Linked DNA regions of Homo sapiens. The protein of the gene in region 2 purifies or fractionates together with the protein of the main gene of each other region. This does not show direct contact. Each region holds a gene or a part of one and is shown on either strand. Other genes may lie near its edges. The genes, in order: EPB41 and HPRT1.

Region 1 (3,826 bases), on a different chromosome or scaffold from region 2:
TAATTCCGAATTGAAATAAATTGTCCGTAGGTTATTTGTCTTCATGTGGAGAAAAAGAAACGATATTGTTAGTAAAATTTCAAGGAGATATTATTTAAAAGAACAAACTATTTTAGGCCTTTTGGAAACTAATATTTATAGTCAAAACCTTGTGGATCAGAGTCGTCTGGATAAAGGTTTATTTGCCTAACCATGTTTCTGTATATGTAATAGGATTTTATTTAAATGGTTCTTTTTTATCCAGAATTTTTTAAAAAGCGTGTTTGCTTTATATTATAAATATATAAATATATATTTATATTACATTTAAGTGTATAATATATATAAATATAGGATTGTACCAGTCTTCATCCAGAGTAGCTTGGATTTTTTGGAAGCCTATGTAAATTTTTAATGTTTGTTTATTCATTCAACAAATATTTATTGAAAACCTACCATGTGTGCCAGGCCCTAGGCTGGATATACCTTGGTAAATAAAAACTGCAATATGGTGAAGAGGTTTAAAATCATGGATTTTGGGGCTGAGTGTGGTGGCTCATGCCTGTAAATCCAGCACTCTGGGAGACTGAGGCAGGAGGATCACTAGAGCCCCGGAGTTCGAGACCAACCTGGGCAACATGGAGAAACACCATCTCTACAAAAAAGTAAAAAACTAGCTAGGCATGGTGGCTCTCCTGTAGTCCCAGCTACTTGGGATGTTGAGGTGGGAGGATCACTTGAGTCTGAGAGGTCGAGGCTGCATTGAGCCATGATTATGTCACTGCACTCCAGCCTGGGTGATAGAGTGAGACTCTTGTCTCAAAAAAAAAAAAAAAAAGCAAAAAAAACAAATCGTGGATTCTGAAGCCAGACTGGTATGTGACTTATTAATTGTATGATCCTAGGCAAGTTACTTAATTTCTCTGGCCTGTTTTACAACCCTGCAGGCCAGGTACTATTATCCTCCCTCTATCAAGTGGGGATATAATAATACTACGTGCCTCGCAGGGTAGTTATGAGGATTGAGTTAGTTCACATAAGTAATTTTCTTAGAATAGTGACTGGCCCATTGTAATTGTTGTATAAATGTTTGGTATTATTATTATTATAAAACAGACATGATTTCTACCCTTGTGGACTTTAATAGAGAAGACAAAAAAGTAGCAAATAAAAATAATTATTTATTGTAATAAGTTATAAAGCCACCAGAGTACTGATATGAAAGACAGTAGAGCGGGCATAGATAGATAGGATAGCCAGTGAAGAGACTTCCTGAGGTTGCAGTGAGAGGGTCATGAAAGATCGGAAGGAGTCTTTTAGATTACTTCCAGTATTTAATGCAGGAGTCAAATAATTAATTTCTTTTTCCTAATTGTCAACCATGCATTCTTTTTTTCTTTTAATTGTTTTCCAGCTGTTACACAAGGAAGTAACATATTCTTTTAAAAGAAAATAATTAGTCGGGTTTAGATAAAAATATGTCGGTAGTTTTGTTGTGTTGAAAGTAAAAGTAAAAATGTATGCCGGCCAGGCACGGTTGCTCACGCCTGTAATCCCAACACTTTGGGAGGCCGAGGCGGGCAGATCATGAGGTCAGGAGATCAAAACCATCCTGGCTAACGTGGTGAAACCCCATCTCTACTAAAAGTACAAAAAAATTAGCTGGGCGTGGTGGCGGGCGCCTGTAGTCCCAGCTATTCAGGAGGCCCAGGCAGGAGAATCGCTTGAACCCTGGAGGCGGAGCTTGGAGTAAGCCGAGATCGCGCCACTGCACTCCAGCCTGGGCTACAGAGTGAGACTCCGTCTCAAAAAAAAATGTATACCAAAAATGTTATCCTACTTATCGGTATTATTTGGGGATAATTTAAGATTGCACCAGGAAACTCTTCCTTCATTGACTCTTCTTTGCATTTAACATGATTAATATTGGGTAGAAAGGTGTTAGCTGGTAGTTAAAATTTTTAGCCTACTACATGTTTGCTTAATGATGTGAAATTGGTCCCAAGCATTTCTCTTAGAATTAAAATTAATTTAAAATTTAGAATATGTAACAAGTCACATCTTATTTTGCAGTTTGTAAGGCTACATTGCTAAAATTGAGGAGCATGGGCAGAGACAATAACGTTTTTGTTAAACTTTAATAATACCGTGTAATGGCTTGGTCAGGAAGAATATATAATGCTGAGAGCAATGGATTGGTATCCTCCGGTTTACCTGAGACCTTCATTTATTGATTTGATGGGATTCTACCTGAGAAGTTTTAATAACAAAGTCTTTAGGGCATTTGGGGGATCATACTATTTTTTATAGAAAAATATTTAATATTAATGTCACCTATATTTGTTTTAGTTCATGCTTTTATTGGTAAGATTATTATAGGTAAAAGCATATACAGCATGTTTTGTGAAATGTGTTTATTACTGACTTGGCGATGTCATGGATATGTAGCCTGCTCAGGAAGAACTCAGAGAAGATCCAGATTTTGAAATTAAGGAAGGAGAAGGACTTGAAGAGTGCTCCAAAATAGAAGTAAAAGAAGAAAGCCCTCAATCAAAAGCAGAAACAGAATTAAAAGCTTCCCAAAAACCAATCAGAAAACACAGGAACATGCACTGCAAGGTTTCTTTGTTGGATGACACAGTTTATGAATGTGTTGTGGAGGTGAGTATGTTTTCATTTCCAACAATCAGAACTCTTACAGGTGGTTTCATCTAGAGTTGCGTAAGTGGTGATTTTGCCCACGATAAGACTCACTGTAGTGATTATTTCTTTTTTCTTTTTTTTTTTTTTTTTGAGACAGAGTTTTGCTCTGTCACCCAGGCTGGAGTGCAGTGGCATGATCTTGGCTCACTGTAGCCCCCAACTCCCATGTTCAAGTGATTCTCCTGTCTCAGCCTCCCGAGTAGCTGGGATTACAGCCATGTGCCACCATGCCAGGCTAATTTTTTGTATTTTTAGTAGAGACAGATTTCACCATATTGGTCAGGCTGGTCTTGAAGTCCGGGCCTCAAGTGATCTGCCCACCTCGGCCTCCCAAATTGCTGGGATTACAGGCATGAGCCACTGCGCCCGGCCTTTAATGATTATTTCTGTAGATGGAAGTATTAATGGTGATTTTCTGGAGGTGGGATTATGGGAAGATGATGAGTAAGTCTTTAAGTCCAGTAAATGCCATTTCTTAAAATTTTCTGTTTTCTGAAAGAATAAGTGATTGAATCAGGATTGAAGAAAAATATCAGAGTTATTCAGTTACTCTTTTTGCTCCTTCAGGACAAGTTGACAATTTTTTTTTTGTTTGTTTGTTTTTTGAGACAGAGTCTCTCTCTGTCGTCCAGGCTGGAGTGCAGTGGTACAATCTCGGCTCACTGCAAGCTCTGCCTCCTGGGTTCACGCCATTCTCCTGCCTCAGCCTCCAGAGTAGCTGGGACTACAGGCACCCGCCACCACGCCTGGCTAGTTTTTTGTGTTTTAAGTAGAGACGGGGTTTCACCGTGTTAGCCAGGCTGGTCTCGATCTCCTGACCTCGTGATCTGCCCGCCTCGGCCTCCCAAAGTGCTGGGTTTACAGGCTTGAGCCACCGCGCCCGGCCAGAGCAAGTTGAAATTTTAAAAAAATCTACTAACTATATATTTTTCAAACTGGAACAGTAGTTGTTTATTATGATATGCTTGATATATAAGCAATTGCAATTGTTACTAGTAACAGCTTTTATTGACAAAGTGTGTAATTCACATATATGTGGAACAAACTATTTTATTTATTTATTTATTTATTTATTTATTTATTTATTTATTTGAGACAGGGTCTTGCTCTGTTGCCCAGGTTGAAGTGCAGTGGCGCAGTGACA
Region 2 (3,826 bases):
TTTTACTTTTTCTTGTGTTAATTTCAAACATCAGCAGCTGTTCTGAGTACTTGCTATTTGAACATAAACTAGGCCAACTTATTAAATAACTGATGCTTTCTAAAATCTTCTTTATTAAAAATAAAAGAGGAGGGCCTTACTAATTACTTAGTATCAGTTGTGGTATAGTGGGACTCTGTAGGGACCAGAACAAAGTAAACATTGAAGGGAGATGGAAGAAGGAACTCTAGCCAGAGTCTTGCATTTCTCAGTCCTAAACAGGGTAATGGACTGGGGCTGAATCACATGAAGGCAAGGTCAGATTTTTATTATTATGCACATCTAGCTTGAAAATTTTCTGTTAAGTCAATTACAGTGAAAAACCTTACCTGGTATTGAATGCTTGCATTGTATGTCTGGCTATTCTGTGTTTTTATTTTAAAATTATAATATCAAAATATTTGTGTTATAAAATATTCTAACTATGGAGGCCATAAACAAGAAGACTAAAGTTCTCTCCTTTCAGCCTTCTGTACACATTTCTTCTCAAGCACTGGCTATGCATGTATACTATATGCAAAAGTACATATATACATTTATATTTTAACGTATGAGTATAGTTTTAAATGTTATTGGACACTTTTAATATTAGTGTGTCTAGAGCTATCTAATATATTTTAAAGGTTGCATAGCATTCTGTCTTATGGAGATACCATAACTGATTTAACCAGTCCACTATTGATAGACACTATTTTGTTCTTACCGACTGTACTAGAAGAAACATTCTTTTACATGTTTGGTACTTGTTCAGCTTTATTCAAGTGGAATTTCTGGGTCAAGGGGAAAGAGTTTATTGAATATTTTGGTATTGCCAAATTTTCCTCTAAGAAGTTGAATCATTTTATACTCCTGATGTTATATGAGAGTACCTTTCTCTTCACAATTTGTCTCTTTTTTTTTTTTTTTTGAGACAAGGTCTCTGTTGCCCAGGCTGGGGTGCAGTGCAGCAGAATGATCACAGTTCACTGCAGTCTCAACCTCCTGGGTTCAAGCGATCCTTCCACCTCAGCCTCCTGAGTAGCTGGGACTATAGGTGTGCGCCACCACTCCCAGCTAATATTTTTATTTTGTAGAAACAGGGTTCGCCATGTTACCCAGCCTCCCAAAGTGCTGGGATTACAGGCATGAGCCACTGGCCCAGTTTCTACAGTCTCTCTTAATATTGTATATTATCCAAGAAATTTCATTTAATCAGAACCTGCCAGTCTGATAGGTGAAAATGGTATCTTGTTTTTATTTGCATTTAAAAAAAATTATGATAGTGGTATGCTTGGTTTTTTTGAAGGTATCAAATTTTTTACCTTATGAAACATGAGGGCAAAGGATGTGTTACGTGGAAGATTTAAAAAAAATTTTTAATGCATTTTTTTGAGACAAGGTCTTGCTCTATTGTCCAGGCTGGAGTGCAGTGGCACAATCACAGTTCACTCCAGCCTCAACATCCTGCACTAAAGTGATTTTCCCACCTCACCTCTCAAGTAGCTGGGACTACAGGTACATGCTACCATGCCTGGCTAATTTTTTTTTTTTTGCAGGCATGGGGTCTCACTATATTGCCCAGGTTGGTGTGGAAGTTTAATGACTAAGAGGTGTTTGTTATAAAGTTTAATGTATGAAACTTTCTATTAAATTCCTGATTTTATTTCTGTAGGACTGAACGTCTTGCTCGAGATGTGATGAAGGAGATGGGAGGCCATCACATTGTAGCCCTCTGTGTGCTCAAGGGGGGCTATAAATTCTTTGCTGACCTGCTGGATTACATCAAAGCACTGAATAGAAATAGTGATAGATCCATTCCTATGACTGTAGATTTTATCAGACTGAAGAGCTATTGTGTGAGTATATTTAATATATGATTCTTTTTAGTGGCAACAGTAGGTTTTCTTATATTTTCTTTGAATCTCTGCAAACCATACTTGCTTTCATTTCACTTGGTTACAGTGAGATTTTTCTAACATATTCACTAGTACTTTACATCAAAGCCAATACTGTTTTTTTAAAACTAGTCACCTTGGAGGATATATACTTATTTTACAGGTGTGTGTGGTTTTTTAAATAAACTCCTTTTAGGAATTGCTGTTGGGACTTGGGATACTTTTTTCACTATACATACTGGTGACAGATACCCTCTCTTGAGCTACATCGGTTTGTGGGGAGTCAAAAGTCCTTTGGAGCTAGGTTTGACAAATAAGGTGGGTTAACACTTGTTTCCTAGAAAGCACATGGAGAGCTAGAGTATTGGCGAATTGAAGAAATCCCCCTTTTTTTTTAACACACTTAAGAAAGGGGACTGCAGGTATACTCAAGAGAGTAAGTCGCACCAGAAACCACTTTTGATCCACAGTCTGCCTGTGTCACACAATTGAAATGCATCACAACATTGACACTGTGGATGAAACAAAATCAGTGTGAATTTTAGTAGTGAATTTCATTCATAATTTGATCGTGCAAACGTTTGATTTTTATTACTTTAGACTATTGTTTCTGATTTTATGTTGGGTTGGTATTTCCTGTGAGTTACTGTTTTCCTTTAAAATAGGAATTTTTCATACTCTTCAAAGATTAGAACAAATGTCCAGTTTTTGCTGTTTCATGAATGAGTCCTGTCCATCTTTGTAGAAACTCGCCTTATGTTCACATTTTTATTGAGAATAAGACCACTTATCTACATTTAACTATCAACCTCATCCTCTCCATTAATCATCTATTTTAGTGACCCAAGTTTTTGACCTTTTCCATGTTTACATCAATCCTGTAGGTGATTGGGCAGCCATTTAAGTATTATTATAGACATTTTCACTATCCCATTAAAACCCTTTATGCCCATACATCATAACACTACTTCCTACCCATAAGCTCCTTTTAACTTGTTAAAGTCTTGCTTGAATTAAAGACTTGTTTAAACACAAAATTTAGACTTTTACTCAACAAAAGTGATTGATTGATTGATTGATTGATTGATGGTTTACAGTAGGACTTCATTCTAGTCATTATAGCTGCTGGCAGTATAACTGGCCAGCCTTTAATACATTGCTGCTTAGAGTCAAAGCATGTACTTAGAGTTGGTATGATTTATCTTTTTGGTCTTCTATAGCCTCCTTCCCCATCCCCATCAGTCTTAATCAGTCTTGTTACGTTATGACTAATCTTTGGGGATTTGTGCAGAATGTTATTTTAGATAAGCAAAAACGAGCAAAATAGGGGAGTTTAACTTTAATATTTTCTTTTAAAAAGCATTTCATGTTATAAGATCAATTCTGAGTGGTAGAAATGCTTTGACATTTTATTTCCATTTTCTACTTTTAGTTTTTTTCCTATTTGTTTAAGATCTTAGAGGATTATTAAGCTGAACTCCTCAACTGATAAAAAGCATGACATCTTAAACATAAGCAAAGCATATTTTTAGGTTAATTTTCACATAGAAAACAGTTTATTTTATGTGAAATTCTATGTAGATATACTATTTTTTTGGTATTTATTGATATGTTTATTTTATTTTATTTTATTTTATTTTATTTTATTTTATTTTATTTATTTATTTTTTTTTTTGAGACAGAGTCTCACTCTGTTGCCCAGGCTGGAGTGCAGTGGCATGATCGTAGCTCACTGCAACCTCCACCTCCCGGGTTCAAGCAATTCTTCTGTCTCAGCCTCCCGAGTAGCTGGGACTACAGGTGCCTGCCACTATGCCCGGCTAATTTTTGTGTTTTTAGTAGAGATGGGGTTTCACCTTGTTGGTCAGGCTGGTCTCGAACCCCTGACCTCAGGTGATCCACCCACCTCAGCC

Evidence for each region.
Region 1: the proteins of HPRT1 (region 2) and EPB41 purify together in Homo sapiens (co-immunoprecipitation; one large-scale study listed by IntAct). This does not show direct contact.

Annotation. Positions count from the first base shown.
Region 1 is NC_000001.11:28,990,903-28,994,728, forward strand, and holds part of EPB41 (protein 4.1), read left to right. Parts: intron 1-2,427; coding exon 2,428-2,640; intron 2,641-3,826. UniProt on the Homo sapiens protein: Protein 4.1 is a major structural element of the erythrocyte membrane skeleton. It plays a key role in regulating membrane physical properties of mechanical stability and deformability by stabilizing spectrin-actin interaction. Recruits DLG1 to membranes.
Region 2 is NC_000023.11:134,473,491-134,477,316, forward strand, and holds part of HPRT1 (hypoxanthine-guanine phosphoribosyltransferase), read left to right. Parts: intron 1-1,690; coding exon 1,691-1,874; intron 1,875-3,826. UniProt on the Homo sapiens protein: Converts guanine to guanosine monophosphate, and hypoxanthine to inosine monophosphate. Transfers the 5-phosphoribosyl group from 5-phosphoribosylpyrophosphate onto the purine.